Regions from separate parts of the Homo sapiens genome. Here regions 2 and 3 are each linked to region 1. The links come from fine-mapping of genetic effects on gene expression. A gene starts in region 1. Each other region holds a variant in brackets. All regions are shown on one strand. Distances are from middle to middle. Region 1 holds the start of FLACC1 (flagellum associated containing coiled-coil domains 1). Region 2 overlaps MPP4 (MAGUK p55 scaffold protein 4). Region 3 overlaps FLACC1 (flagellum associated containing coiled-coil domains 1).

What was found. PIP is the estimated chance that this variant, and not a neighbour inherited with it, causes the effect.
Region 2: its variant is fine-mapped to the expression of FLACC1 in substantia nigra (GTEx, PIP 0.96).
Region 3: its variant is fine-mapped to the expression of FLACC1 in whole blood (TOPMed, PIP above 0.99). The same link has a PIP of 0.9 or more in esophagus muscle, gastroesophageal junction, ileum, substantia nigra and transverse colon.

Annotation. Positions count from the first base shown.
Region 1 is chr2:201,351,430-201,362,418 of GRCh38, reverse strand. It overlaps FLACC1 (flagellum associated containing coiled-coil domains 1), which reads left to right and starts at 5,074. Exons shown (of 15, transcript NM_001127391.3): 1 at 5,074-5,437; 2 at 10,968-10,989.
Region 2 is chr2:201,686,716-201,697,704 of GRCh38, reverse strand. It overlaps MPP4 (MAGUK p55 scaffold protein 4), which reads left to right. Exons shown (of 22, transcript NM_033066.3): 2 at 3,651-3,829; 3 at 4,676-4,797; 4 at 7,426-7,503; 5 at 10,334-10,414. The coding sequence starts at 3,751. Among named protein-coding and RNA genes, the nearest start is that of MPP4, 6.4 kb to the left of the region's middle. The variant C/T (reference allele first, on the strand shown) is at 5,054.
Region 3 is chr2:201,316,004-201,326,992 of GRCh38, reverse strand. All of the region lies in intron 9 of FLACC1 (flagellum associated containing coiled-coil domains 1), which reads left to right. Among named protein-coding and RNA genes, the nearest start is that of FLACC1, 36 kb to the left of the region's middle. RefSeq lists enhancers at 6,032-6,531, 6,532-7,033. The variant T/C (reference allele first, on the strand shown) is at 6,584.

The sequences.
Region 1 (10,989 bases):
TGATCTTTACACACTATCTTGCTATTTCCAAGGAGCCAAGGCACACTGAAAGACTCTAATCTGCCATCTTGGAAAAAAAAAAGAAACTGTTTTTTTAAAAAAACTCAGTATCCATTTAGAATTATGACCATCTTGTGAGAAATGAAGCTTGAGACTCTACTTTGATATCAAATTTAGTGCTATTCTCATCATCTTTAATTGTGTTTTCTTTCACAAATGACTACTAGTGGATGTGTTTAAGTCCAAAAAACCTTCTGATGAGGTTTAAGATTTGGGGCTTTAAGCATCCTGTTGACTTCTATTGTTAGTTTCACTATATTAAATTTGAGTTAGGCTAATAGTAAGTTTTATTTTTCTGTTTTTCATTAGTTTTTATGAGTTAAGGGCCAAAATACCACAAAATTTTCAAATGAGCAAATGTTACTGTGCAAATTCAGAAAAGATGCTGAAATACAACTGTTGGCTGGCAGGTCATGGTGCCAGCAATAGCATGAAGTGTTTTGTTCTTTAGTTTAAGAAGTTATGAAGAAAGCACCCCGAAGGTGTTATGAGATGATGAAAAATACAGAAAACCCAAATATATAAAAATCAAAGTATTGTTTCACAAAATTTGATCGTCTTGCCTTCTCAGAAAAATCACTAAGTTGTTCAAAAGCAAGATTTTCACATCACATTCAAACATTATGATAGGCCAGAAAATGCTATGGAGTATTTTAATTTCATATAATTCACTACCACTTCTATGGCTGTTTTTACCATCTCTCAAACAATCTTTAGATCTATCCAGTAATATGAAGAGTTGGTACCAGGCTTCATGTTCCATCTAGATCTACATATATATAAATGTAAGGGTACTCAGGATGCATATTGCACAATGTTCTTCAGCCACCATATGTAGCTCTTGCAAATACCATTCCTGTATGCGAATACCTGTGGAATTGCAAATTAAGGCATTAAAAGAAGCAAAAAATGGGTGCTCAGCACCACTGGAAAATATATTTCATTATGCACAAATCTTGCATTCATGCTATCTGAGAGGTTTTGACAGGTTACCTTTCCTCTTACCTTACTGCTGCTGCCCCAGTCTTTCCTGCACTCCAAAGCAGTGTCTGTGTCTGATCTCAGCAGCAGCATCACCCACAAACCTTTACAGTATTTGGGCACAGTCATCTTTTGTTTTGAAGGTAAAGGGTAAAAGATGTGGTGAAGCATTCCCTGAGACCTGAATGTGGTTAATGATGAGAGTGAATCTTTAGGGTTATGGTTCCTGCTGTTTCAGAGCTGAGCTCCAGATCAAGGGCCCGTGTGTTTTTGTTTTTGTTTTTGTTTTCTTCCTCTTCTGAGATGGAGTCTTGCTCTATCATCCAGGCTTGAATGCAGTGGCACGATCTTGGCTCACTGCAACCTCCGCCTCCTGGGTTTGTACAATTCTTCCACCTCAACCTCCCGAGTAGCTGGGACTACAAGCATGCACCACCACACCCAGCTAATTTTTTTATTTTTAGTAGAGACGGGGTTTCACCATGTTGACCAGGCTGTTCTTAAACTCCTGACCTCAGTTGATCCACCCACCTTGGCCTCTCAAAGTGCTGGAATTACAGGCATGAGCCACTGCACCCAGCCCGGGCCCACGTATTCTTGAACAAATGTAGGTTTCTGTGTGTGCCTGTCCTATGCAGAGCCCTCTAAAGCCCAGGGCTCAGAACAGTGGCCCCTCTTTCTAGGTGCAAGGGTAGCACTACAGGCTTTCACGGGATTCCTGTGGCTACCTGGTCGGGTCTATTCAGGATGATCCATGGGAGTTAGCATAGCACCACTCTAAAGTCAGATGTTGAAAGCCAAAGATCAAAGAGAGTTGAGCAAGTGAGCAAGTTGGAGATAATTACAAGCTTCTTAAGAGAACACTGTCTTTTCCACACTGGGAGTGTTCTCATAGAGCCACAAATAGCGCTCCACAGATGGAAAGCCTCCGAATGCTCCCAGCTGACCATGTTTGCCACTTCGTGAATGCTGCAGCATCACACAAGAGGATATCTATTTCCCCAAGCCCTGTGCAGACCAATTTTGATAATATTGCTGTCAGAATTAAGTTGCAGTTTCTCTCATTCATTTTTCAACTTATACTTTGTTTTACTATTGGTGGCCTCCTCCACCTCTGTTCCAAATAGTAAGACACTTTGCTTTAGGCGAAGTTACTGAGAATGCCAGCACTTCCCCAATTTCATCCAAGAGAAGAGCACTTAACACTTAGCCCCTAAACACCTTCATTTCCTTCTCCTCAGCTGTTTTGGAACTGGCGAAGCTTTACTCATGTCCAAAAAGATGAAAGGAGAATGGGGATACCCAAGTAGTAGTAATTAGTGCTGAGCCTTTGCCAAGTCGAGTGGCTGGGGTATTCCTTCAGCACTTACTTCCTCTGTATCTCTGTTTTTAGCCATGCTTCACTCAAGACCCAAATCCTGCTGCTTTTTTTTTTTAATCATAAGAAAGGATTTAAATATAAAATTTTACACATTAAACACACTCAAAGTAAATATTCAATCTCTGGATGGAGACAGATTGTCTAGATGACTAATAGAGTCTATCAATTCTTCTCTAAGTTATTTCCCTCCTTTTAATCTTTGAAAGTCTCTCTTCATCTAGCCTGTTCATGGTGCTCAGAGTTGAAGCAGCCATAGTGCAACCAAGACGCTTCCCTCCATCAACACACCGAGGCTGGCATAACAGAGAGATGGAAAGAGCCCAGTTCTCCAAGGACATTGCTGAATCTTTGCACCAACTCTGATAGCACTGCCTCCAGACTCTATTTCATGAGGTTAATAAACCTCTTTGATGTAAGCCACTTGCAATCAAGCAACAGGTCTATGCATTTTAACTACACATGGCCCACACTGAGAAATCTTGTCGTAAATACTGGTGTCCTCAGAGCTCTGTTCTAGACCCTCTTCTCTCCTTACACAATACTCTCTCTATATGTGATCTCACTCGCTCCCTTGGCTTGGAATAGTATCCACTCTGAAGACTCCTAAATCTGCTTCTAGGCCAGAATCTTCCTCTGAACTTCTAAAATATGTAAGAAACTCTAACAGACGTCACCACTTGTCTATTAGTCTCCCTGCACCTCAACATATCCAAAACTGAACTAATAATCTGCTCCCTAGAACCTGTTTATCCCTCCACACTTTCCTATCTCAATAAATGGCACCACGGTCAACTCAATTGCTCGAGCTGGAAAGCCAGGAATCATCACCTTCTCCTTTTCGCTCATCCCAGCATCCAGTCAATCACCAAGTTCTATCATGTCTTCTCTCCATCCCCACTGCTGCTCCTCAGTCAGGGCCATCGTCAGGTCCCATGACGACCACTGCCACAGACTTTTACCTGGTTTTCCTGGCCCTTCCAATTGCTTCCCTATATTGCAGTCAGAATGATCTTTCTGATATGTAGATCTAGTCAGATCTCTTCTCTGTTTAACACTGCTGCCTGACTCACTGGACTAGAAGAGTAACTCCTGCTATGAACTCCCACTGCTTCTGGCAAGTCTCAATATGAGTCATTGTGGCTGCATGGTGACTTACACCTGTAATCCCAGCACTTTGGGAGGCCGAAGCAGGAGGATCACTTGAATTCAGGAGTACAAGACCAGCCTGGACAACATAGCAAGGCCTCATGTATACTAAAAGTCAAAAAAATTAGCTGGGCGGCCGGGCGCAGTGGCTCACGCCTGTAATCCCAGCACTTTGGGAGGCCGAGGCGGGCGGATCACGAGGTCAGGAGATCGAGACCATCCCGGCTAAAACGGTGAAACCCCGTCTCTACTAAAAATACAAAAAAATTAGCCGGGCGTAGTGGCGGGCGCCTGTAGTCCCAGCTACTTGGGAGGCTGAGGCAGGAGAATGGCGTGAACCCGGGAGGCGGAGCTTGCAGTGAGCCGAGATCCCGCCACTGCACTCCAGCCTGGGTGACAGAGCGAGACTCCGTCTCAAAAAAAAAAAAAAAAAAAAAAATTAGCTGGGCATGGTGCTGTGCACCTGTGTAGTCCCATCTACTTGGGAGTCTGAGGCAGAAGGATCGCTTGAGTCCAGGAGGTCAAGGCTGCAGTGAGCTATGCATGCAGCCTGCACTGCCACTGCCACTGCACCGCAGCCTGGGTAACAGAGTGAGCTACTGTCTCAAAGGAAAAAAAAATTAATTATGCTTTTATTGAGCTTTTTTATTGTCTGTTTTCTCATTGGTCTCTAAGTTGTATTGAGTATAAGAACTGAGGTATATCCCCACACCTAGCAATAGTGCCTGGCACACAGTAGACAACAAATGTGAAGTTGAGTGAATAGATGAATTTATAACAATATTTTGTAAGCTAGGGGTTGTGACCCACCAGGATCATGAAATCAATCTAGTGGATTATAATCAGCTTTAATTTAAAGAAGAAAAAGAAATAGAAGAGAATAGCAAATAATAAGAGTATTATTTCATGAAATTTTTTTATTACAAAATTTGTAAAATGTATTTCTTATAATGAGTGGCAGTAAAACTAAAATGAAAGCCACTGGGTTGTAATAAGCAAGTACTTTTTTCTATAGTAAGAAAAAGCAGCTTTATTTAAAAAAAAAAATCGGAAAACCTTGTGACTGCAAAAGATTCCTGCCTTGGGGGATTTTTACTTTCACAGATTTCAAAGCCTTAAACTCGAGGGAAAAAAGTGTCTAGAGTTTTAGGTTTCTGTGAGTAGATCACAGAGGAATTAAAAATCCATCACAGATCCTGCCTGGTAACTATTGCCATAGACCAATGAAGCCTAAAAGTGCTGTTGAATTCTATTTCCTCTGAAGATATATCTTAAACTTTTTTGTCCCATGACTGATGACGAAAGTGGAAATCCAGTGTTAAAAGTATGAATTCTTTGCTGTTGAGGGTGGTCACTGATTTGTGTCTTGGAGAATTTAATTGGCTGTTTCTCCCAACCTTCTCTCTTGAAGAAAAGAGCCCTGAGCCAATGAGGAGCTACTGTTCTGTGTCCATAGCAACAAAATAAACAAACTTTGGCCTGCCATCTCCCAAGGGCAAACCTCACAACTCAGGCCCAAGTCACAGGAATCTGAATGGTGGGGTGACCTTCTCCTCTAGTTTAATTTCATTGCAATACTGAGAAACTTCAACTGTTTTGTCTTTAGAAGGGAAATTCATGTTTGTGCCAGGCCAGCCTTTGTAAAAGCCTTTGATTGGATTCACTAGAAGTCTGTCTTCCCGCAGTACATATACTGTGAATTTTCTCCTTCGGCATTTCAACCACTTGGAATGGCCACTAAAGTGGCTTTTGATCTAAAGTAAACTCTGATTCTGTGTTGATGGGGAACCATTTCTCTCTAACATGGTGGTTTCTTTAAGATGTTTGACTTGGGCCACATGAGAATAACAGATCTTTGGGCAGTCCAAGGTAAGCTCTTTGGAAAAGATGTTTTATATTATTTTTTCTACTGATTATTAATACTAACCAGTAACTTCTCTGAAGCCTCTGCCGGCTCACTGGTGACTATTGTTAGGGCAAGCCTCAGGTAAAATCATCAGGTAGAAGTGCAGGAAAGGGAAAAAAGGGGGAGAAAAAATCCTTACACACACTCACACACCCCTCTATAATTAGAGCTATATGATGTCAAGCCACTGTAAATGCAGATCTATCTGTGATGACATGGAAATATCAACTAGATATCCTGTTACACAAAAAGAACAAGATGCAACATTGTGTGCAAAGTATGCTCTCACTTATGCAAATAATTTAAAAAATCTATTATGCTTCTCTACAGGTTAAGTTCTATATGCAAAACATTTAAGGTTATATGCACTCACAACATTTCTGGAAGGATGCCCCAAAAATCTGTTAGAAGTAGTTCCCACTTAAGAAGCTATGAGAAGTCAAGGGCTGATTTTAGCTACTGAAATATTAAAATACTGCCATATAGGCAGGGCACGGTAGCTCACACCTGTAATCCCAGCACTTTGGGAGGCTGAGATGGGTGGATCACCTGAAGTCAGGAGTTTGAGACCAGCCTGGCCAATATGGTGAAACCCCATCGTTATAAAAATACAAAAATTAGCCAGGCATGGTGGCGGGTGCCTGTAATTCCAGCTACTGGGGAAGCTGAGGCAGGAGAATCGCTTGAACCTCGGAGGTAGAGGTTGCAGTGAGCCAAGACCACACCATTGCACTCCAGCCTAGGCAACAAGAGCAAAACTCCGTCTCAAAACAATAATAATAATAAATAAAATACTGTCATATTGATTGGTAGATGACCATTGTCCAAGCCCCTTGCATGTCCTCCTTGCCACCTTGGTTGTCCCAACTCCTCCCCTGGCACCCCCAGACCACCTCATGATTCAGCAACTAAGGGGTTAATGCCTGGCATGGAGGTGGGAGTGAGATCTCCCAGGACCCTGTTCCAACCCTGGTTGATTATTCAATAGCCTTGTCTTACTGGTTGTTAAATATTTTGAGTATCACTCCCATGGGTGTTCAAAGAAAAAGGCCTTTATTTTTATTTTATTTATTTATTTATTTTTTAGAGACAGGGTCTTGTGCTGTCACCCAGGCTGAAATGCAGTGGTGTGGTCCTAGCTCACTGCAACTTCAAACTCCTGGCCTCAAGTGATCCTCCCGCACCACCTGCCAAGTGGCTGGGACTACAGGCACACTCCACCATACTAGGCTATTTTTAAAATTTTTTGTAGATACAGAGTCTCGATATGTTTCCCAGGCTGGTCTCAAACTCCTAGCCTCAAGCGACTCTCCCACCTCAGTCTCTCAAAGTGTTGGGATTACAGACATGTGCCACCACACCTGTGAGGCCTTCTTTTTTTTTTTTCTTAAGAGCAAAAGAATATATACCAAGACATTGTTTATCATGGGAAAGAGGAAAAGGAAACAACTACACATTCATCAAAGATCATTGAAAATCTATGTAAAACTCCACTGAGTGATTGTATCACCCATACAATTTACCTCTGCTTTCTGGCTTTTGAATGCAAATGTTTAATGTTATTTATAATATGGTAATGACGATTACAACATTTTGGCAGTTTCATCTGTGAATCTCTTTTCTCTTTGTTTTTGTTTTTTGTTTTATTCATTTATTTATTGAGACAGAGTCTTGTTCTGTCATCCAGGCTGGAGTGCAGTGGTGAGATCTCGGCTCACTGCAACCTCCACCTCCCAGGTTCAAGTGATTCTCCTGCCTTAGCCTCCCGAGTAGCTGGGATTACAGGCATGTGCCACCATGCCTGGCTAATTTTTGTGTTTTTAGTAGAGACGGGGTTTCGCCCTGTTGGCTAGGCTGGTCTCGAACTCCTGGCGTCAAGTGATCCTCTCGCCTTGGCCTCCCAAAGTGCTGGAATTACAGGCATCAGCCACCATACCATCTTTTTCTCTTTGTTGAGCTAGCCCCAACCACCATGATGAGCTGATTACAACCACTAAGTTTACTAGTCAGGTAAGAAATATTCATCAAATGCCCGTTGTGGACAAGCCACTTTGCAAGGCTTAGTGGAGGTGTTGAGGCACAGAGAGCACTCCATAGTGGAGTCCTGGCCTTCAAGAAGAGAGAAGGCAGTTGCTAGAAGTGGGCCTGCCTTAGCCTCTCACTTCTTGCCCCATGGACTCCTGCTAAATCTCCCAAGTTCAGGGTTGGCTCCTTTCGTACAGGAAGCAGATACAAGGTTCTAAGCAGAAGCAGTTTCTTTTTTGCTACTGTTGTAGCCTTCTTTCAGACTCTCACCTGAATTCCAGCCCCTTGTAGCATCATCTTCCCACCTGGGCACTCGATCCCATCTGCTTCTCTGACCTCATCTCCTTGACTTGGCCCTAACAGGCCCCCAAACCCAGTGGAGTATGGACAGTTATAAATGGCGGCCCTGTCACCTGCTCTTCAGGCCTTTGCTGTTTAGCCAGTCTCCTGGACTCCTTTCTAGCCCTGGACTCCTTTCTAGCCCTGACCTCTATTGCAGAAGACTCCCTAGTCCCAGGCCTCTGGCCCAGCCAACCCCTGCACACGCTGCCTTTCTTCCAAGGCCAGGTCTCTTGCCTTTGCTCCACTGCTCACTTAGCTCTCTTTCTGCCGACTCCTCTGCTGACTGCAAGCTCCCTGAGGGCAAGGTCCAACCAGCATCTAGCACAGGACTCACAGCACGAGCCTCTAAAGATTTGTACTGTTAAAGCAGCAGTTACAAGTGAGTGAGTTTTAGTATCCTCATATGTAAAACAGATTCAACCTTAAGGTCCTCTGTAGCTCTTAAGGTCATTAGACACCATCAGTGGGTTTCTCAAGCATCAGTCGTGTTGGAGACAAAGGTTGATTTCATTTTTTCAGCAGGTTCTTAAGCAAATGTATTCCAGTGTAATATTGAAAACTAATCATAGACTTAGACATTTGAGTTAAATCTGCTATCACTTTAATGCTTCTGTTAGGCCATTGATTCTTATAACATTTTTGGCATTTGTTTTTATTACTAATGAAATATCCACTGACATGGCTGGGCACAGTGGCTCATGCCTGTAATCCCAGCACTTTGGGAGGCCGAGGCAGGAGAATCCCTTGAGACCAGGAGTGCAAGATCAGCCTGATCAACATGGCGAAACCCAGTCTCTACTAAAAATACAAAACTTAGCCAGGCATAGTGGTGGGCACTTGTAGGAGGCTGGAGGCCTACACCTACAGGAGGCTGAGGCGGGAGAATCGCTTGAACCCAGGAAGCAGACGTTGTAGTGAGCCAAGATTGTGCCACTGCACTCCAGCCTGGGTGACAGAGTGAGACTCTGAAAAGAAAAAAGAAAAGAAAAGAAGAAAAGAGAAAAGAAATATCCACTGACATCATTTAAAAATCAACTAATGTTAAAAATTCATTAAGGAAAAGTCTCAATTTCTGCCCCATCCCCTGACCTGTCAGTTCTACTTCTCAATGTGCTCCTAGAGGCAATTATTTTCAACTCTGCTATCTATTTCTTTGGAATTTTATTTACCTCATACTTCCAAGTAATTTGTCTGTGCTCCGTATGTTAATTTTTCTTTCTGGTACAGCAGATGAGGATTTGGCTCTTATACATCCCCATTCCACTCATTCTTCCCATGTAGTCACAGTTCACTTTTTGGCTAAGTCACTATTAAGTATTTACATTTGATACATATGAGTGTGTGCCATACTATGATTATGTTTACTTTCTCATTCAATATTTTTTAACCTGGAGTAATTGCACATTTTATTTTCTTAGGTTTCTATGTTTCTATTGCCAATCTCTCACCCACACTCCCAAATGCTCTGGTTCTGGTTGCTCTGTAACAAAGTTACCACAAATGTAGTGGCTCAAGCAACAATCTTACAATTCTGAAAGTCAAAGTCCAAAATGAGCCTCACTGAGCTAAAATCAAGAGGTCGGCAGAGCTGCATTCCTTCCGGAGGCTCCAGGGGGAATTCGTTTCCTTGCCTTTTCCAGCTTCTAGATGCTGCCCCGATTCCTTGGCTCCTGGACCTTTTCCTCAATCACTCCTACTTCTTCCTCCATTATCACATCTTCTCTGACTGATAATTCAGGTTAATCTTTCTATCTCAAGATCTTTCATTTAATCACAGCTGCTTTTGCCATGTAAGGTAACATAGTCACACTTTCCAGGGATTAGGACATGCGGTATAGGGAAAGGGACAGTATTCATCCTACCATGTGCTCCTACACATCTACCAGCTGCCTGTCAATATCATCAGGTAATCTACCAGTTCCAAGTCCTGCACCCTCTGGGACCTCTGATGTGTGAATTGGCTCCATCTTGTTCATACCCTGTCTTTGCAGGCACATAGGCTATAGTGAGCTATGGAGAGAGCCCTAGTTACTATGCCAAACATGTACGGACATCCCTTGTGCAATCTTGTCTCCTCTCCCATTTTCTTGCTCTTGTGGAACTAAATCTCTTTTAATGCTGTACTCTAATTTTAGTTGGATTCTGGAAAAGAAAGAAGATAAGCCAGTGTGGTCAAGCCACCATGTTTATCTGATAGTTTTCTTTCATCAAGATTCTCATAATAGGGGTTTTGTTTTTTGGGAGCCAGGGAAGGAGTTTCCACTCTGTAATTCAAGAAGGTGACCAGGAATGAGAAACGAGGAGATTCATTTGCACTGTAGCTCAAGCAGCAGAACTAATTTTCCAGGAAGTTCTGTGCAGAACTTGCTGTGGGAATTTCTCTTCCCTTCAGTGAGAACTGGTGTGGCCTGCTGGAAAGGAAGGAGCTTGGGAGTCAAAGAGATTTGTGTTTGTTTCCAGCTCTGCAACTTGCTGCCGCCGTGACTTCTCTGAGTCTCAGTAGCTTCATCTATAGTATCAGCATAACAATAATTGAGCAGTTTTACCTGGCTCACAGCAAGGACTCGGCTATGGCAAATTTTATTTTATTTTAATTATTTTGTTTTATTTTTATTTGTATCTTATTTTATTTTTTGAGACGAAGTCTCACTCTTCACCCAGGCTGGAGTGCAGTGGCACAATCTCAGCTCACTGCAACCTCTGCCTCCCAGGTTCAAGCAATCCTCCCACCTCAGCCTCCTGAGTAGCTGGGACTATAGGTGTGTGCCACCATGCCCAGCTAATTTTTGTATTTTCAGTAGAGACGGGGTTTCACCATGTTGGCCAGGCTGGTCTCAAACTCCTGACCTCAAGTGATCCATCCACCTCGGCCTCCCAAAGTGCTGGGATTACAGGCGTGAGCCACCATGCCCAGCCAGTTATGGCAAAGTTTAAATTGCTTTCAAGTCAAGTCTACTGAGTAGAAAGGGATGAGCTGTTAACCTATAGTCAAGACCCTGCACCAGATCAACAGCTTCTGGAATCTACCATTGTTCTTTGGGTCCTCCCTGGGTTCTTCCCAATTCTTCTGTATTTTTGCTTTGATTCTAAATGGTTTAACCTTCTGCTGTTGTTTTTCAATTTCAGCAAGAGCCTCCTGATCTAGCAG
Region 2 (10,989 bases), 340 kb before region 1:
CAGGGAGGAAAGGAAGGGAGGGCACAGGCCTCTGGAGTTCAGCTGCCTCCCCCATTAGGATTGAAGTCCCAGCTGCTGGCTACTGCCTTGAGGGAGGTATCAGCCTTTTACTTCTGGATCTTGGCCTCTCCTTGTTCTACCCCTTCCCAACAACAACTGAACATACCAAGTGCTTGCTATGGCCCAAGCACTGTTGCAGGTGAAGCTGCAGCATGAACAAGATAAGCAACATCTCTGCTCCCCAGGCCCTCTGCAGACATGACACCTGCGGGAGACAGACACTGAGCAAGCCAGTGGATACAAGAACTGGGAAAATGAGAAGTGCTATGAGGGCAAGAAGTTGCAACTGTTTTCTTAGCTACCTGGAGGGAGGGAAAATCATTTTCTGGAAGTTTTTTTCTATGAGTTTTGTCTTAGCTTTGGCTGTCATAACAAAGTACCATAGACAGTGGCTTAAACAACAGAAATGTATTTTCTCATACAGTTCTGGAGGCTGGAAGTTGAAGATTGGGATGCCAGCATGGTTGGGTTCTTGCGAGGGTTCTCTTCCTGGCTTTCAGATGGCCGCGTTTTCACTGTGCCATCATCTGGCAGGGAGAGAGAGAACACATGAACTCTGATGGCTCTTACCCAGACGCTAATGACATCTTGAGGCCTCTACCTCATGACCTTAACCCAGTTACCTCCCAAAGGCCCCATCTTCAAATGCCATCAACAATGGGGATTAGGGCTTCAACATCTGAATTGGGGGTGGGGACACAACATTCAGTCCACCATAAATTTGTCATAGGAACCTGAAGATGAGGAGCCAAGCACAGTTTTTAGAATTTGCATAAGTTGTAGATTACTGTAATTATTGTTTTTGCCTCTATGGCTGAGAAACTTTGGGTCAAAACGAGCCTTTTAGAATGTATGAATTAGTTATCTAGGTAGCCCTGAAGTTGGCTCTAGATTTATTAGAAGCTATTTTAACCATTGCATTCACTCAAGAAACCACCGCCTATCTGTGAAGCACAGTCTATCTGTAAAGCTCCCTCACAATAAATTCATCTCAGAAATATGTAGTCTCTAGTGTGTGCCCCCAACTGCTGAATGGGTAGGCCTAGCTCAGCACAGTCATTCGGGCATTAAATATGGCAGAAATGTGGTCCACCTCATGACGTGCAAACAACAGTTGGCTTGTTTAATCTGCACTGCTTTGCCAAGGACGTGTGATTTGTGAGGTGCTGGAGGGGAACCAATTTTAAGAGTCAGCCTGAGTGTCAGCCTCATCTGTCTGCTCTGACTTTTGTCTGCTCTCTAGCAGGCACTCCATCTCCCTTTTCAATTTTCTACCCTGGAAGTGCTCCCCTCCAGGGAGGAAGATGAGTCAGATATGCAGCTGTGATGCTAAATGATTCAATAGAGTCAAAAACAACACAGAACACAGGAAAACGCATTGTTTAATCTGACTCAATTACAAGTGGGCAAGGTAGGTGATGGAGGGCAAGTCAAAAGCATAACGATGTCAAGCTTTGGTAGAACCTAGCAAACCGGAAGACTTCAGGGTGTTTGGAAAGGAATGTGTAGGGGAAAGTTGTCTAAAATGCTGTAACAGCTTTCTGTGTTGCTCTTCTCACTGCCTTAGAATTTAGAGTCAAAATAATAATGATCTTTTCTTCTTTTAGATAGCCTTCCTGGCTTCAACCCACAATCAGTCTAGATTCTAGACAGTGGTTCTCAACCCTATCAGAGTCAATACTCCAGTCTTTAACAACTAATTTGAAGTGTTCCTTTTATAACAAAAACCTTAATGTATTCTTTATTGTCCTACTATAACAATGTTGTTGGTCCCTACCCCCACCGCATACCCCTTGGTTGTTACCATTTTGGTGCACTCTGAGCCCACTCCAGCTGCTAGCCCCTCCACTTCCTATCCGAAGGTATACATGTTGCATGCTGGAAGAGTCAGAAATAATGCTCTCTGGGAAGAGCTCTTAACCTGTTGGCTCTAACAGGGGCCAAGAGAGTGAGGGTATTTATATACCAAGGTTGCCATTGGTGTATAAAAACCCTCATGTTGCCATTGGTGTGTAAATACTCTCACTCCCTTGGCCCCTGTTCCCCCGTGGGATTAAGCTCTAGTTGCCTACAGTGGTTACTTCTTGATGACAACCTATTACTGGCTTTTTCACCTTCCCTGCCTCAATACCCTACTCCCCATTGTATATTAAACCAGTGCAAAAGTGTCTTGTGTTTATATGTAAAGAAAAGTTGGCGTCTGGATTCAGATAACTACAGGTTTTATTGTTTTTCAGTGACATGATAGTTCAGTGGGACATTTGAAAGCTATACAGGGCATGAGGCGATTCTTCACTGTGTAGGGCAACTTGTGGAAAACTTTGCTTAAAGAGCAGTAGGCATATTTTCTTTGCCCGTGTTTTCTTAATCCCTTCCTCCCCTACCCTGTTGGCCGAAATGTAGGCGTGATGACTGGAGCTGCAGCTGCCATCTTGGAGCAGGTAGACAGAACCATGCTACACCCTAGGGTGACAGAGCAGTAGCCGGAAGGAACCTATTCCCTGAGGACTTCGTGGAGCAAGGCTGCCCTATTAGCCCTGGATTCTCTCTGTCTCTGAACTTTCACACGAACAAGATATAAACTACTCTGCTAAGCCAAAATTATTCTGGGTTTCTACTTCTTGAAACTAAATCTACCTAAAGCAATACCAAAAATAAACATTAAAATAAGCATTTCAAACTAGTTTTCAAAGACTGGTATTAAATCTGATAGGGTTAAGAAAACTGTCTAGGCCAGGTGCGATGGCTCACACCTATTATCCCAGTGCTTAGAGAAGCCAAGGTGGGAAGATTGCCCAGAAGTTGGAGACCAGCCTGGGCAACATAGTGAGACCCCATCTCTACAAGAAGTTAAAAATTAGCCGAGTGTGGTGGCACATGCCTATGGTCCCAGATACTCAAGAGGCTGAGGTAGCAGGATGATTTGAACCTAAGAGGTCGAGGGTGCATGATCATGAGCCATGATCATGCCACCACACTTCAGCCTAAGCAACAGAGTGAGACCCTGTCTCAAAAAAAAAAAAAAAAAAAAAAAAAGGGAAAAAGAAAACTGTCCAGACTCTATACAAATTGTAGGATTGAGCCAGGAAAGCACTCTAGAAACAAAACAAAACAACAGATCGTTACAGTGTTGTCTCTAAATTCCAAGAGTGTGCCTCAGTAATAACCCATAATTCTTGCAACTGTGACCAGACCAGCTAGTTCTTCTATGAAGAACTATAAGGTGCAATGAGAGGAAATGGGGCACCTGAGTGGAGCTGGTCCACGCAAGACTTTTCTGAGCTCTAATGATGGGTAAAGTCAACTGGGTAAAGAGGTGGAAGATAAATAAATATAGTATTTGTCATTTACTTCTAAAAAGTGGGTAGGTGTGGTTTCTAGGAAATCAATTCTTCTGAAAGGCTAAAAAATGTGTTTAAAACATGGAGTTAGGGGGAGCATTTTATGCAATAGTCGTTTTCTCTTTCACGCCACTGGTGATGGTTAAGAGTAGGCACCACAGGGGAAGACTGTGTTTCATTTGATGTGTATCCCAGTGTGTAGCACAGGGCCTGGCTTGCTGAGGAAATGCTATTGAAAATATATTCCAGTGTGCTGAGAGCTGGTGGCCAGTGGGACTGAGTGAGCTGTGTGCCGTGTATTGACCCGCTTCCTAGTCCTGAATTCCTTTCAGAAGCTCCGGCAGGGAGGATGATACAGTCAGACAAAGGAGCAGATCCACCAGACAAGAAGGACATGAAGCTTTCTACAGCCACCAATCCACAGAATGGTATGTGTCACCAGGACTCCTTTTCTAGACCAGAAAGTAATATCACCTCTGACATGTGATCAAATGAATAGGCAGAAATCCTGACAGACTTACTGTGATCCCTATGAGGATCTTGTACATTTTTGGTTGCACTACTGCCCTACCAGTGATAACTTTAAGAACAAATTTCAAGCCAGGAAGGAAATAAATGGACATGATGGATTCAAAACCTTTTTTTCCCTTACCTGACAATGTTTTATGTAAAACTTAGAACTTCTTAAGTTGTTCACATTCAGAATATCACTACAACACTGTGAAAATACTGTCAAAAAATAGAATATTCACTAAAATCTGTTTAGAGACCCTTTAATCAGGAGAATACTGAGCTTTGCATTAAATCTATTGGGAGTTAGAATTTTTCAATATCACTCTCAATAAGAATTTTTTGAGAGGATGAAATGACTCTTATGTTTGAGTTAGAGAAAGAGGATACAGAACACAAGTAGATAATTTTGGGATAAACGACAGGCTGGTAAGATGGGGGAGGGGAAAGCAATCATTTTCCTTTCATGACATCTTACATCTGCACATCACGATCTATTATTTTACTCAGTGTTAAGAACAACACTATGACAAAGCTAGCACCTTCTCATCTTGGGCAAAGAAACTGGGTTTCGGATAGCTATGTGACTTTGTGACGTTCACAAAGTAAGAGGTGGAACAGGGCTTGAAGTCAGATCTTTTGGCCTGAGATCCAGTGTCATTTCCACTCCTGGTGAGACCCCATGGCATGCCCCAGCTATCTGAGTTGCCTTTCACATTTACACCCGCACCTGCCACCCCATCTCTGCTCTCTTCCTTTCCTAGGCCTCTCCCAGATCCTGAGGCTTGTGCTGCAAGAGCTGAGTCTGTTCTACGGCAGAGATGTGAATGGAGTGTGTCTCTTGTACGATCTCCTCCACTCGCCGTGGCTTCAGGCTCTGCTAAAGGTGAGTGCTTCTTTGCTCGGAAGCCTTTGCTTGCTGAAGGGGTTGTGGGGAGTGTGTAGAAAATGACAGCTTCAGTCCATTCAGGCTGGATAGTGGAATAGTTTATAAACAACAGAAATTGATATCTCACAGTTCTGTAGGCCAGGAAGTCCAAAATCCAGTCGGCAGCAGATTCAGTGTCTTTTGAGGGCTCCCTCTCTGGTTCCTAAATGGTAACTTCTTGCTATGTCCTCACATAATGGAAGGGGCTAGCCAG[C/T]TCTCTTGGGGTCTCTTGTATAAGGGCATTAATTCCATATTCATGAGGGCAGAGCCCTGATGACCTATCGGCTCCCAAAGACCTTACCTATTTTTTTTTTTTTTTTTTGAGACAGAGTCTCACTCTGTTGCCCAGGCTGGAATGCGCTGGCCTGATCTCAACTCACTGCAACCTCCGCCTCCCAGCTTCAAGCGATTCTCCTGCCTCAGCCTCCTGAGTAGCTGGGATTACAGGCACCCACCACCACACTTGGCTCATTTTTGTAGTTTTAATAGAGATGGGGTTTCACCATGTTGGCCAGGCTGGTCTCAAACTCCTGACCTCAGGTGATCCGTCCGGCTCAGCTTCCCAAAGTGCTGGGATTACAGGCATGAGCCACCACACCCAGCTAGCCTTACCTTTTAATATCATCACATATGCATTTTGGAAGTACACATTCAGATCATAGCAACTACTTACCCAATGGTGTCATTTATCAACTGGTAGGAAATTTCAACTTGGAAAAAGTTCTTAGAAGGCAACTCTCAGAGAAGAGCTACACAAACTTCTTCGCTTAGGAAGGAATTAACTTAGGTGGAGGAGAATATGGTAGTCCCTTCCTTTTCTCCCCACAGCTCTTTTTCTTCCAGAGGCCCCCTGGAATCACAAAACAGCCACCACGATGGTCATTGGCAACACTTTATCAGCTGGCTACAACCGTTTGTCCTTGCAGCAACCCTGGATAAATAAAAGTGCTTTAAAAAGTTATTCCTATTTGTTTGTTAAAGTTAGAAAGTAAAATATCTACAGTTCTGTTTAGGTACCCTGAAGTTTCTTATTCTAAAGTTTCTTCTGGCCCAGTGTGATGGTTCATGCCTGTAATCCCAACATTTTGGGAGGCCGAGGCTGGTGGATCACCTGAGGTCAGGAGGTTGAGACCAGCCTGGCCAACATGGCAAAACCCTGTCTCTACTAAAAATACAAAAAATTAGCCATATGCAGTGGCACGCACCTGTAATCTCAGCTACTCTGGAGGCTGAGGCACGAGAATTGCTTAAACCTGGGAGGCAGAGGTTGTAGTGAGCCAAGATTGAGCCACTGCACTCCAGCCTGTGTGACAGAGAGAGACTCCATCTCAAAATAAATAAATAAAATAGAATAAATAAAGTTTATTCTTTTTTAATTTGGCTAAAATTCCATGCACTATACAATAGCGTCTAATAGATAGTAGAAAAATAGCATCTACTATCTAGTAGATGCCACTACTATAATTTTGTTGTTCTGAACAAGTGTTATTATTAAGAGAGATCCTTTTGAAGTTATTTTTTGGGATGTGGGTATTTCCTTCACTTAAGTGTGAAATGTGGTCTGTCTTATAGTGCATGTTAATATTATACAATAAAAGTGGCAACATCTTTGGCATGAATGAAGTACTCCTCATAGCACCTGTTATAAAACACCTGATTTCTATCAGGCATTTTCCCACAGGATCAGCTAAGATAGGAGTTTTAATTTCATGATGGGCATTGCCTTTGCTCACCACTGCTAGGCCCTTGGTGAGTTATCCAATCAGCCTTCATCACTTCCAGGTAAACCTGAATGCGGGCCCTGGGATAGAGCAGGGAAGCAGCATCATCACTAATCTGGATAGAAAAGACTGGGGGCTCAGCCGGCCCCTTGGGCCTTATTTCTTCGTCTGTAAGAGAAACTCAATTCCTAAAATAAGATCAAGGGGTGCATTGCAGAGCTAGGCAGGCTTTGGTGTCCTCAGCCCAAACCTAGATCTTGGTATGGAAAAAAATTCCCAAGGGTATGTGGAGATGAAGTTGGAATTTTAAAAAATGAACTTGTACTAGAGAATTAGGAGAGGAATGGGAAACAGCCCCAAAGCACAAAGCAGAGTACAGAGAAGCGTTTGTGGCATGCCCACCACTTATTCAGAACCTTCAGTGGCCCTGAGCCACACAGCTCACATGCTGCACAGGCGCCCAACACAGGGGTCCTCACAGGTGTCTGGTCCTAAAGGGCCCCTCCTTTAAGACGCTCCTTTATGCATCATCTACAAATCCCCATTGGTTTCAGTCCCAGACACCCTACCCTCACTCTGTTTAACAAGATTAAAAGTTTGAATTTCTTTTTATTACTGAAATGCTTGGAGAAGATCAATTTCCCAATGGCAGCCAATAATTAAGCTTTTGAAGCATCGGGGCCACCAAACTCAAGTTCATTTCTCTTTGGCAACTAGAGACACAACTTACTAAACACCAACCACACCGTGCTGTGCAGCCATTGGTGCAGTTGCCTGGGGTGTTTCTTCTCTTTGAGAGTCTTAAATCCAAAATGGCAATAGTCATATTATCAATATCAATTCTCCCTCCCTTGTCCTTCTGCAGATTTATGACTGCCTCCAGGAATTTAAAGAAAAGAAACTAGTTCCTGCCACACCACATGCACAGGTGTTATCCTATGAGGTAAGGAGATTTTATTCCACAGGATAGTAGAGCTCTGATGTGGTGCCATTTTCCCCACATTGCTAGTTCAAATGAATTAAAGGTTCTAAGGAAAAGTTTTATTGATGACTATGCATCTAATAAATGTTTCTAATTGAACTTTAATATAAGGAAGAACATTGGCTGGGTATCTCCCCAAATTAAAACACTCCCCACCACCACCCACGTCATTTTTAGCGTGTGTTCATTTCTTTCTTTTTTCCTAAGTCTCGTACTCCATTTGCCCTTCATAAACAGGGTAATGTTATAGTAATAATTCTCGGATTTATATCTCTAGCCTGGAGATTTCCCTAAATTCCAGTCTCAAATATCCAACCGCCTCCTCTCCATCTCACTTGGATGTCTAACGGACTCCTCCAAGTTCACATGTTCCAAACTGAGCTCCCGATCTTCCCCACCTGCCGATCACCCCCACCCACTCTTCTGGAAGCCTTTTCTATCTCAGAAACGATACCTGTGTTCTTGCAGTGCTCAGGCCAGAATCTTAGGGGTCATTTCGACTCTCTTTTTCTGATACCTCACACCCAATCAGATAGCAAATCCTCTCAGCTCTACTTTCAAAATATATCCAGGATCTCACCAAAATATATCCAGGATCTCACCACCCCATACCATCATCATCATCTCTTACATAGATAGTTGCAAAATTGCCTCCTATCTGGTCTCCTGTGTCCACTCTTGCTCCTCTACAGTCTACTCTCAACACGGCAACCAAAAATACCCTCTTTGAAAGCAAGTCAAATCATGTCACTTCCTCACTAACACTCAAACCCTTCAAATGACTTCCCATCTCAGAGTAAACACCAAAGCTCTTTTTTTGTTTTGCTTTTTTGTTTTTGATACAGAGTCCTGGTCTTTCACCCAGACTACAGTGCAGTGGCATGATCTCTGCTCACTGCAACCTCTGCCTCCTGGGTTCAAGCAATTCTCGTGCCTCAGCCTCCTGAGTTGCTAGGACAACAGGAACCCACTACACCTGGCTAATTTCTGTATTTTGGGTAGAGACGGGGTTTCACCATTTTGGCCAGGCTGGTCTCAAACTCCTGACACTAAGCTATCTGCCCACCTTGGCCTCCCAAAGTGCTGGGATTACAGGTGTGAGCCACCACACCTGGCCTAAACACCAAAGTTCTTACATAGCTGAACACAATCAAGCTGCTGTTACCTCTTTGACTTCACACTCAATGCTTTCTCCATTCACTCTGTTCCAGCCACATTGACCCCTTGTTATTGTTTAAATTCATCAGGCTGGGTGCAGTAGCTCATGGCTATAATCCCAGCACTTTGGGAGCCTGAGGCAGGCTGATCACTTGAGCCCAGGAGTTCAAGACCAGCCTGGCCAACATAGCGAAACCCCATCTCCACTAAAAATACAACAACAACAAAAATTAGCTGGGCGTTGTGGTGCATGCCTGTAATCCCAGCTACTTGGGAGGCACGAAAATTGCTTGAACCCAGGAAGTAGAGGTTGCAGTGAGCCGAGATCACACCACTGCACTCCAACCTGGGTGACAGAGTGAGACTATCTCAAAAAACAAACAAACAAACCCAAAAAACAAATCATCAGGCATGCTTCTGCCTGGGGCCCTTTGCACTCGCCATTCCTTATGTCAGCAATGCTCTTGCCCAGATATATACCTGATCTGTCCCTCATCTCCTTCCAGTCTCCACTCAAATGCCACCTTCTCAGTGAGGCTTTTCCTGGTCACCTATCTAAAATTGTATTCCCTCCTAGCACTTCCTAGCCAGCTTCCCTGGTTTATTTTTCTTCTTAACACTTGTCACCATCAAACAAAACTATTTTACTTACACATTTCATTTGTTGTCTGTGTCTCCTCCCTAGAATGTAAACTCCATGAGAATGGAGATTTTTGTCAGCCACTGCTGTTTTTGCATCACCTAAAACAGTTCCTAGCACACAGTAGTGTTCAATAAATATTTGTCGAATGAATGAATAAATATAATCCATTTTATTATTTATTGCCCATCCCATATTAAAAGAAACAGCAAAAAAGAAAGAAAAAACTTCTGCTCTCAATTCCAGTAATCAACAATTCAAATTGTTCTCAGTTGTCCACAGGAAAAGCACATATATAATATTTTATTCAGTTGAAATCCCAGTGAATGGAGGTAAACCTTTGTAAACTGCTTGTTTTCATTTGACTGTAGGTAATGGGGCTGACTAAAGTCTTGAAAGGTCTTATGTCCTCTGAAAGCAGGTCTACGCCTAAACCACAGCAGAGAGAGCAGAATTTTTTTCCGCTTAGCACTTTTTATTGTAACAAGCATTAAAATTGCTAATCAACTGATACTCTAAAAGAGAAATTATGATTTCCATTTTCTATTTGAAGAATGGAGCATCCCATGGGATTAAGCTCTTTGAGTTCCCCAGGTACGTTCCTAGAGAAACTCATACAGCTTCATAAGCCTGCAAAGCATTGACATCAGCCAACAGCTATTATATTTTAGAGGCACTAGAGGAAAAGTGCCTTGGTTCATATGCTGTTACCAAATTGGTACATCCTCCATGCCTATGTGCCAGGATTGGGCATTGGGTTTAGATCCATCTCAACTCTTGAATTCTATTTGCTATATTAAAGTAGCAATTTTAATGAATAAAGAAGGATGGTAGGCTTTAATGGATGGCTTTATAGATGAAAAAGAAGGCTCCAGTAATAGCTTTTTAAAGGTCAATATCATGTTAGTATGTATGTTATCCAGCCTGGGTGAGGTTAAGTAGGTGATAAAGATTTTTTAAAATTTTTATAATGTATCCTTTTCCATGAACCAGGTAGTGGAGTTATTACGTGAAACCCCTACTTCCCCTGAGATCCAAGAGCTGAGACAAATGCTCCAGGCTCCACACTTCAAGGCAAGTGCCTGCTAAAATAGAAAAGATGTCCCCATCTGGCACATAGACAAAGTTGGGAAGGAGAAATATATGTGATGGAAAATGTTCTCTCTGAATAGATGTTCTATTACTGTACACGGTTACTGACCAACAGATTGTACTTAAATATGTGGGACTCAGATGTGACTAGCTCAGTGTTGTCAATCATGCAGTCAAGCCTGCTGTGTTTATGAGGAGGCATCCAGAACTTTCCATGGTGCTTTGTTTCCCCTACAAAGCTATTGCCCATCCAAAAATCTTGGGTAGCAAACAGGGAATGTTCTAGTTATAGAGGAATACCTCCATGCTTCCTTTCCAAAGTGGGACTATTTTGAGTTTTAGATAATGTGTGTGTATTTGGAATATACAGTATAATGATGATTATCCCTGTGAGAGGGTTTATGAAGAACATTTGATTGCAGAACAGAAACCTATCTCTTAGTACTTACAGATTTGAGACCAATTTATCAATAAATTAGAACTTTAAGACAATGTCTGTATTTGGAGTGCTGAAATTTATCAGTCAAAAGTTATAATTCACAACACAACCACCAGTC
Region 3 (10,989 bases), 35 kb after region 1:
GTTTCCTTGGCCTATGTGCCTACTTTTATACCAGTACCATGCTGTTTTGGTAACTATAGCCTTGTAGTATAATCTGAAGTCTAGTAATGTGATACCTCCAGATTTGTTCTTTTTGCTTAGTATTGCTTTGGCTATTCTGGCTCTTTTTTGGTTCCATATGAATTTTAGAACTTTTTTTCTAATTCTGTGAAAAATAATGTTGATATTTTGATGGGAATTGCACTGGATCTGTAATGCAAGATTACTTTGGGCAGTATGGTCATTTTCACAACGTTGATTCTTCCAATCCATGAGCATAGAATGCATTTCCATTTGTTTGTATAACCTATTACTTCTTTCAGCTGTGTTTTATAGTTCTCCTTGTAGAGATCTTTCACCTCCTTGGTTAAGTACATTCCTAAGTATTTTATTTTTTTGTAGCTGTTGTAAAAGGGTATCAGTTCTTTTTTTGATTCTCAGCTTGGTCGTTGTTAGCGTATAGCAGTGCTACTGATATGTGTACACTGATTTTGTAAACTGAGACTTCACTGAATTCGTTTATCAAATCTTAGAGTCTTTGGAGGAGTCTTTAGGATTTTCTAGGTATACAATTATATAATCTTCAAACAGCAATAGTTTGACTTCTTCTTTTCCAATTTGGACGCCCTTTATTTCTTTCTCCTGTCTAATTGCTCTAGCTAGGACTTCCAGAACTATGTTGAATGAGAGTGGTGAAAGTGAAGGTGGCCATCTTGTCTTGTTCCGGTTCTCAAGGGGAATGCTTTCAACTTTTTTCCATTCAGTATGATGTTGGCTGTGGGTTTGTCACATATGGCTTTTATTATTGAGGTAGGTCCCTTCTATGCCTAGTTTGTTAGGAGTTTTAATTATGAAGGATGCTGGATTTTATTAAATGCTTTTTCTGAATCTATTGAGATGATCATGTGTTTTTTGTTTTCAATTCTGTTTATGTGATGTATCACATTTATTGACTTGTGTGTGTTAAACCATCCCTGCCTCCCTGGGACAAAATCCACTTGAATTATCTTTTTGATGTGCTATTGGGGTCGGTTAGCTAGTATTTTGTTGAGGATTTTTGCATCTATGTTCAACATCAGTGAAATTGGTCTGTAGTTTTTTTTATTTGTTGTGTTCTTTCCTGATTTGGATATCAGGGCGATACTGGCTGCATAGAATGATTTAGAGAGGATTCCCTCTTTCTCAATCTTTCGGAATTGTTTCAGTAGGATTGTACCAATTCTTCATTGAACATCTGGTGGAATTCAGCTGTGAATCCATCTAGTCCTGGGCTTTTTTTGTTGTTCTTGGCAATTTTGAAATTACTGATTCAATCTTGCTGCTTGTTATTCACCTGTTCAGGGTTTCTGTTTCTTCCTGATTTAATACAGGAGAGTTGTACGTTTCCAGGAATTTGTCTATTTCCTCTAGGTTTTCCAGTTTGTATGCAAAAAGGCGTTCATAGTAGCCTCAAGTGATCTTTTGTATCTCTGTGGTTCTGTGGGTTGTAATGTCTCCAATTTCATTTCTAATTGAGCTTATTTAGATCTTCTCTTCTTTACTTGTTTAATCTTTTCTTCTTTTCTTGGCTAATCTAGTCTATTTTATTTTTTCAAAGAACCAGCTTTTTGTTTCATTGATCTTTTTATATTTTTTGTTTGAATTTCAGTTAGTTCTGCTCTGATGTTCATTATTTCTTTTCTTCTATCTTTGGACTTCGTTTTTTTTGTTTCTCCAGTTCCTTGCAGTGTGACATTGTCAATTTGTGCTCTTTCAGACTTTTTGATGCAGGCGTTTAGCACTATAAACTTTCCTAGCACTGCTTTTGCTGTATCCCAGAGGTTTTTTTAGTTTTTAGTTTTTTGAGACAGTCTCACTCTGTCAACCAGGCTGGAGTGCGGTGGCACTATCTTGGCTCACTGCAAGCTCTGCCTCCCAAGTTCAAGCAATTCTCGCACCTCAGCCTCCCAAGTAGCTGAGACTGAGACTACAGGCGCCTGTTACCACACCCAGCTAATTTTTGTATTTTTAGTAAAGATGGGGTTTCACCATGTTGGCCAGCCTGGTCTCAAACTCCTGGCCTCAAGTGATCCACCTGTTTGGCCTCCCAAAGTGCTAGAATTACAGGCATGAGCCACCGAACCCCACCTATCCCAGAGGTTTTGATAACTTGTGTCATTATGATTCAATTCAAAAATTTTTTAAATTTCCATCTTGATTTCACTGTTTACCCCAGATATCATTCAGGAATGGATTATTTTATTTCCATGTATCTGTATAGTTTTGAGGATTCCCTTTGAAATTGATTTTTAGTTTTATTCTGCTATGGCCTGAGAAGATACTTCATAGGATTTCAATTTTTAAAAATTAATTGAGACTTGTTTTGTGACCTATCATATGGCCTATCTTAGAGACTGTTCTATGTACCAATGAGAAGAACATACATTCTACAGTTCTTGGGTAGAATGTTCTGTAAATAGCTGTTATGTTCATTTGTTTTAGCATGTCATTTAAGTCCATTTTTTCTCTGTTGGCCTTCTGTCTCAAAGACTTGTCTAGTGCTGTCAGTGGTATATTAAAGTATCCCACCATTACTGTGTTGCTGTCTATCTCATTTCTTAGGTCTAGTAGTAATTGTTTTATGAATCTGCAAGCTCCAGTGTTAGATGCATGTAAATTTAGGATTGTAATATCTTCTTGTTGGATTGATCCTTTTATCATTATATTGACCATCTTTGTCTTGTCTTACTGTTGTTGCTTTGAAGTTTGTTTCGTCTGATATAAGAATAGCTACTCCTGCTTGCTTTTGGTGTCCATTTGCATGGAATATCTTTTTCCACCCTTTTCCCTTGAGTTTATTTGAATCCTTTCATGTTAGGTGAGTCTCTTGAAGACAGCAGATATTTGGATTGTGATTTTTGTTATCCATTCTGTCATTCTGTATTTTTTAAGTGGAGCGTTTAGGCCATTTACATTCAACATTAATATTGAGATGTGAAGTACTCTTCTCTTCATCATGTTAATTGTTATGTATATAGCTTTTCTTTTTTCATTCTGTTATTGCTTTATAGACTTCATGAGTTTTAAGCTTTCAAGAGATTCTATTTTGGTGCGTATTTGGCTTTTGTTTCAATGTTTAAAACTCCTTTTAGCCCACCTTTCTTTCTTTTCTTTCCTTCCTTCCTTCCTTACTTTTTTTTTTTTTTTTTTTGATAGAGTCTGGCTCTGTTGCCCAGGCTGGAGTGCAATGTTGCAATCTTGGCTCACTGCAAACTCTGTCTCCTGGGTTCAAGAGATTCTCATGCCTCAGCCTCCCAAGTAGCTGAGATTACAAGCATGCACAATCACACCTGGCTAATTTTTGTATTTTTTAGTAAAGACAGGGTTTTGCCATGTGGCCAGGCTGGTAGCATTTCTTGTAGTTTGGTTTGCTAGTGACAAATTCCCTCAGCATTTGTTTATCTGAAAATGACTTTTATTTCTCCTTCAATTACAAAACCTAGCTTTACAGGATACAGAATTCTTGGCTGACAGTTTTTTTCTGTTTAAGGAGATTGAAGATAAGACCCCAATACCTTCTGGCTTGTAAGGTTTCTGCTGAGAAGTCTGCTGTTATTCAGATAGGTTTTCCTTTATAGCTTACCTGATGCTTTTGTCTTACTGCTCTTAGAATTATTTCCTTCATGTTGAGTTTAGATAGCCTGATGACTATATGCCTTGGTGAAGATCTTTTTGCAATTAATTTCCCAGGAGTTCTTTGAGCTTCTTGGATTTGGATATCTAGATCTCTAGCCACGCCAGAAAGGTTTTCCTCAATTATTCCCTGAAATAAGTTTTCCAGACTTGTTATTTTCTCTTCTTCCTCTGGAACACCAGTTATTCTTAGGTTTGGCTGTTTAACATAATCCCATATTTCTTGAAGACTTTGTTCATTTCTTTTTATTCTTTTTTCTTTATTTTTGTCTGATTGGGTTAGTTTAAAAACCTTGTCTTCAAGCTCTGAAATTCTTTCTTCTACTTGTTCTAGTCTATTGTTAAAGCTTTCTGCTGCATTTTGTATTCCCTAAGTGTGTCTTTCATTTCTAGAAATTCTTATTGTTTTTTCTTGATAATATCTATATCTCTAGAAAATTTTTCATTCATATCCTGAAATGCTTTTTAAATTTATAATAGTTTTCATCTTTCTCTGAAATCTCCTTGAGTAGCTTAATAATTGACCTTCTGAATTCCTTATCTGGTATTTTAAAGAGTTCGTCCTACTTTGGATCCATTGCTGGAGAGCTAGTGTTATCTTTTGAGGGTGTTATAGAACCCTGTTTTTTCATATTACCAGAGTTCCTTTTCTGGTTCCTCCTCATTTGGGTAGATTATTTCTTCTAATTATCCTTGAATTGATGTTTGATTTGACTGTGTTTCTTTTTGTGTTTGTTTTTTAATTTCTTTTTTCCACTTAAGGATGTGACTTTAATGCTTATCATATTATGGCCTAATTTGGTTTTTGGTGCTTTCAGGGGTGAAGACTCTGTAATAGTTCCTTGGTTATAGAGAGTTTTTTTATGTGGCTTTCTTAGATGCTGGTTGTAGTAGCAATGTGCTTGGTATATTAGCAAGATCACTGTCTCCTATGGGGCTGTAATGATAAGAGGTCTCTTAAAGCTTATCTCATTCCCCTGTGGCATGCCCTTTTTTATTTACGCATTTTCGTCCAGTTTTTTTTTTCTTTTTTTTTTTTGAGGCTGAATCTCACTCTGTTGCCCAGGCTGGAGTGCAGTGTCATGATCTCACTGCAATCTCCGCCTCCTGGGTTCAAGTGATTCTTGTGCCTCAGCCTCCCAAGTAGCTGGGATTACAGGTGCCTGCCACCACACCCAACTAATTTTTGTATTTTTAGTAGAGACAGGGTTTCACCATATTGGCCGGGCTGGTCTCGAACCCCTGACCTCAAGTGATCCACCCGCCTCAGCCTCCCAAAGTTTTGGGATTACAGGCATGAGCCACTGCACCCGGCCTTTTCTCCAGTGTTTTATTTACTAGTTTGATGGTTCCAGCTTCAGGCCAGTAGGGGAGGTGTCCCTGGGTAGGAATCAGCTGTGGCTAAAGCAGGTGGGTAAATGCAATACCCAGTGATGGGCAGAGGTCTCAGCCTTGACAGAGGTGGCTGGAGGAGTGAGTTGCAATGAGGTCTTACCTGGGGTAAGGGTTGGAGCCACCTCAGCTCCCCTGCCAGGTTAGCAGGAAAGTTATCCCTCTCAAACACACTCCTGTTTCAGTGCTCCAGCTTTTCATCTCCAGACAGCCACCTCTTTTCATCTGCAGGAATTTTGATGTTCCAAATAGAGAAAAATTGTGAACGTCTCTCATACAAGCTTGAACCTAGAGGGTGCCCCTCCTATGGGGATGCAGTCACCCTGATGTCTTCCAGAAAGACTGTCTATAGTTGCACTCACACCAAGCTCCAATGGGAGAAGCTCCAACTGTGCCTGCAGTGGTAGACAATGGGTGGGGGGGTTGTCTGTCTGTTGGGTTAGAGCTGAAGACTTTTCCTGCTGAGCCCAGCACTGCAACTGTGCCTCTGCTGAAAGAAACTTCCCACTAGCAGAAAGATCTGGTTCTTAAGTCCTGCTGTCTGGATTATTTTCTCCCACAGGGTGTTCTCTTGATGTGGTGCACTCCCTGTTCCCCTAGGATCAGGGGGATCCCACTCCTAAGGGAACAGGGTCTCTGGGTCTAGCTGTCCAGTGAAGGTACCACACCCCAGGCTGGTGCTAGGGAATATCTGCAAGGGATCCAGTGATGTGACCTCTCTTCAAGTCTCCCAACAGTGGGTAGCAGCACCAGTTCTAATGGGCGTGGCAGGGTAATAGACTCTGTGAGAGTCCTTGGTTATTGATAGCCTTAGTGTGTTGGCTTTCTCGAACACTGGTTTTAGTAGTAATGAACTGGTCATGTGGACAAACTCAGGACCTCCTGGTTAGCCAGAATGGTGCAGGCAGTGGTGATAGCTGAGATTACACAGCCATCTTCTTCCTAGGTGCGTTGTTATTCTACCAGGAGATGCTGTAATGGACTGTGTTGGTTGGCCTCCAGCCAAGAGGTGATGCTTACAAAAGGGAACCAGCTGCAATAGTAGCAATAGGACTTTTGCTTGCTTTATGTTGTCCAGAGGGGTTACTCTGGTTTCTCAGGCAATGAGTGGGGCTATATAGCCCCCAAGAGTTTCTGTCCTTTGTGTTAAACTACCAGGGCAGGTGACGGGGCAAAGCAGGGTGAGGGTTGGTTCAGGTGGGCTTGCGCTCTGAGTCTCCCTGTGCAGGGCAAGCAGCAGCCCCTGTGGAAGCCAGGGGATGGGAGTGGTTCTCAGGCCACTGGGTTGATGTTCCAAAAGGCAGTGTTGCTGGCTTTGCCACACAGAAGGGTTTGTGCAGAGTGAGGAGAAGCAGGTGGCTGTGAGCCCCACACAGATCCCATGCACTTGGCAAGACAGATGCACTCCCACAGTGTTCCACTGGCAGCAGCAAGCTAAGTTCCAGTTAGCCTGCACTCAGAACTTGCAACTGTCCCGAGTCATATACGTTCCCTGCAGAGA[T/C]AGCAATCACGGCTTTCAGGCCAAGCCCCTCCCTGTCCACTGCAAAGCCAGGCACCCAGTTCCTGCACTGGCAGCTCCTGCACTCATGGCTGCAGCCCACTTTTCACTCTCCTCCACCCTGGCCCTGGCCAAGGGAGTTCATCCGCACCTAAGGTTATATCATGAAACCCAGTTGGAGGCTTCTTTCAACCTGCGACCACTGCCTGAACTTTTTGGCTGTCCTCCACAGGGTTCCCCGTGAGGAACAGTAAGAAATGGCTTCCCTCTCTCCATGCTGAAATCTGGGAGTGTGTGCAAGAATCTTCCTGCCACTGCTCCCACTTTTATATTCCACATCCCTCCCCAAGTCAGTTCCTGTGCTGCATAGGGTTAGGGCTTTCTCCCATGGTCTGGACTTTCAGGGTCCACAGTGGGGGTGTGTATTCCAGGAGTAATGTAGGGTGAGTCCCCCTTCTCACACTCTGGGAACTCACAGCCCTTTGCCTGATTCACAGTGTAACCTGCAGCCTCCTGCTTCCTTCAAAGGGTCTGTAGATTCCTTTGGTTTTCCTGTTCAGTTTCTGCATTGCTCCTTGAAAAAAGTTCAGTGTGAATCTCTACAACTATTTTGTTTTTCCAAGTGGGAGAAGTATGCTAGCAATGCCTCTAATCTGCCATTTTGGAAAAACACAAACAAACTTCTGTCTTCTTTTGAGAAGTGTCTGTTCATGTCTTTTGCCCACTTTTTAATGGGGTTGTTTTTTGCTTGTTCAATTGTTTAAGTTACTTATAGATTCTGGATATTAGATATTTGTCAGATGCGTAGTTTGTGAATATTTTCTCTTTTTTTGTAGGTTGCCTGTTTACTTTGTTGACGGGTTTTTTTGCTGTGCAGAAGCTCTTTAGTTTAATTAGGTCCCACTTGTCAATTTTTGTTTTTGTTGCAGTTGCTTTTGAGGACTTAGTCATAAATTCTTTCCCAAGGCCAGTGTTCAGAATGGTGTTTCCTAGGTTTTCTTCTAGGATTCTTAGAGTTTGAGTTCTTATGTTTAAATCTTTAAGGCATCTTGGGTTGATTTTTGTATATGGTGAAAGGTAGGGGCCCAGTTTTATTTTTCTGCATATGGCTAGCCAGCTATCCCAGCATCATTTATTGAATAGGGAACTCCTTCCCCACCACTTGTTTTTGTCTACTTTGTTGAAGATCAGATGGATGTAGGTGTGCAGCTTTATTTCTGAGTTTGCTATTCTGTTCCATTGATCTATGTGTCTGTTTTTGTATCAGTACCAAGCTGTTTTGGTTACTGTAGCCTTATATTTTTTTAAATTTTTTTATTTCTATGGGTTATTAGGAAACAGGAGGTGTTTGGTTACATGAGTAAGTACTTTAGTGGTGATTTGTGAGATTTTGGTGTGCCCATCACCCGAGCAGTATACACTGCACTCAATTTGTAGTCTTTTATCCCTCACCCCCTTCCCACTCTTTCCCCCTGAGTCCCCAAAATCCATTGTGTTATTCTTATGCCTTTGCATCCTCATAGCTTAGCTTCCACTTATGAGTGAGAACATACGATGTTTGGTTTTCCATTCCTGAGTTACTTCACTTAGAATAAGTCTCCAATCTCATCCAAGTTGTGTTGATGCCATTAATTCATTACTTTTTATGACTGAGTAGTATTCTATCATATATATATGGAATTTCTGAATCAAATGGTAGTTCTACTTTTAGTTCTTTAAAGAATCTCTATGCTGTTTTCCATAGCAGTTGTACTAGTTTACATTCCCACCAGCAGTGTAGAAGTGTTCTCTGTTCACCACATCCATGCCAACATGTATTTTTTTTTTATTTTTTGATTATGGCCATTCTTGTAGGAGTAAGGTGGTATCTCATTGTGGTTTTGATTTGCATTTCCCTGATCATTAGTGATGTTGAGCACTTTTTCATATGTTTGTTGGCCATTTGTATATCTTCTTTTGAGAATTGTCTATTCATGTCCTTAGCCCACTTTTTGATGGGTTATTTGTTTTTTCTTGCTAATTTGTTTTAGTTTGTTGTAGATTCTGGATATTAGTCCTTTGTCAGATGTATAGATTGTGAAGATTTTCTCCCACTCTGTGGGTTGTCTGTTTGCTCTGATGACTGTTCTTTTTGCCATGCAAAAGCTCTTTAGTTTAATTAAGTCCCAGCCATTTATCTTTGTTTTTATTACATTTGCTTTTGTGTTCTTGGTAATGAAATCCTTGCCTAAGCCAATGTCTAGAAGGGTTTTTCTGATGTTATCTTCTAGAATTTTTATATTTTCAGGTCTTAGATTTAAGTCCTTGATCCATCTTGAGTTTATTTTTGTGTAAGATGAGAGATGAGGATCCAGTTTCATTCTCCTACATGTGGCTAGCCAATTATCCCAGCACCATTTGTTGAATAAGATGTGCTTTCCCCACTTTATATTTGTGTTTGCTTAGTCAAAGATCAGTTGGCTGTAAGTATTTGGGTTTATTTCTGAGTTCACTGTTCTGTTCCATTGGTCTATGTGCCTATATTTATACCAGTACCATGGTGTTTTGGTGACTATGGCCATATAATATAGTTTGAAATCAGGTAATGTGATGCCTCCAGATTTGTTAGGTTTTTTGCTTTTTGATTTTTTGTTTGCTTGTTTTGCTTTGTTTTGTTTTGCTTAGTCTTGCTTTGGCTATGTGGGTTCTTTTTTGGTTCCATATGGATTTAAGGAGTTTTTTTTCTAGTTCTGTGAAAAACGATGGTGGTATTTTGATGGGAATTGCATTAAATTTGTAGATTGCTTTTGGCAGTATGATCTTTTTCACAATATTGATTCTACCCATCAGTGAGCATGGGATGTGTTTCCATTTGTTTGTGTCATCTATGATTTCTTTAGCAGTGTTTTATAGTTTTCCTTGTACAGGTCTTACAACTCCTTGGTTAGGTATAGTCCAAACATTTTATTTTTCTTTTGCAGCTATTGTAAAAGGGGTTGAGTTCTTGATTTGATTTTCACCTTAGTCGCTGTCAGTGTATAGCAGAGCTACTGATTTGTGCACATTAATTTTGTATCTGGAAACTTTACTGAATTCTTTTATCAGTTCTAGGAGCTTTTTGGAGGAATCTTTAGGGTTTTGTAGGTATACAATTATATCATCAGCAAACAGCAATAGTTTGACTTCCTCTTTACTGATTTGGGTGCCCTTTATTTCTCTCTCTTGTCTGATTGCTCTGGCTAGGACTTCCAGTACTATGTTGAAGAGGAGTGGTGAGAGTGGGCATCCTTGTCATGTTCCAGTCCTCAGTGGGAATGCTTCCAACTTTTCCCCATTCAGTATGATTTTGGCTGTGGGTTTGTCATAGATGGCTTTTATTACATTGAGGTATGGCCCTTGTATGCTAGTTTTGCTGAGAGTTTTAATCATAAAGCATGCTGGATTTTGTCAAATGCTTTTTCCGCATCTATTGAAATGATCATGTGATTTTTATTTTTAATTCTTTTTATGTTGTGTATCACATTTATTGACTTGAGTATGTTAAGCCTATATCCCTGGTATGAAACCCACTTGATTATGGTGGATTATCTTTTTGATATGTTGTTGGATTCAGTTAGCCAGTATTTTGTTAAGGATTTTTGCATCTATGTTCATCAAGGATATTGGTCTGTAGTTTTCTTTTTTGGTTATGTCTTTTCCTGTTTTTAGTATTAGGGTGATACTGGCTTCATACAATGATTTAGGGAGGATTCCCTCTTTATCTTGTGGAATAGTGTTAATAGGATTGGTACCAATCCTTCTTTGAATGTCTGGTAGAGTTCTGCTGTGAATCCATCTAGTCCTGGACTTTTTTGTGTAGGTAATTTTTTAATTATCATTCCAATCTCACTGCTTGTTATTGGTCTGTTCGGGGTATCTAATTCTTCCTGATTTAAGCTAGGAGGGTTGTATCTTTCCAGGAATTTATCTGTCTCCTCTAGGTTTTCTAGTTTATGCACGTAAAGGTGTTCACAGTAGCCTTGAATGATCTCTTGTATTTCTGTGGTGTCAGTTGTAATATCTCCCTTTTCATTTCTAATTAAGCTTATTTGGATTTTCTCTCTTCTTGGTTAATCTTGCTAATGATCTATCAATTTTATTTATCTTTTCAAAGAACCAGCTTTTTGTTTCATTTATCTTTTGTATTTTTTGTTTGTTTGTTTGTTTGATTTCATTCAGTTCTGCTCTGATCTTGGTTATTTCCTTTCTTCTGCTGGGTTTGTGTTTGGTTTGTTCTTGTTTCTCTAGTTCCTTGAGGTGTGACCTTATATTGTCTGTTTTTGCTCTTTCAGACTTTTTTATATAAGTGTTTAGGGCTTTTAGCTTTCCTCTTTGCACTGCCTTTGCTGTATCCCAGAGGTTTTGATAGGTTTTATGTCACTGTTGTCATT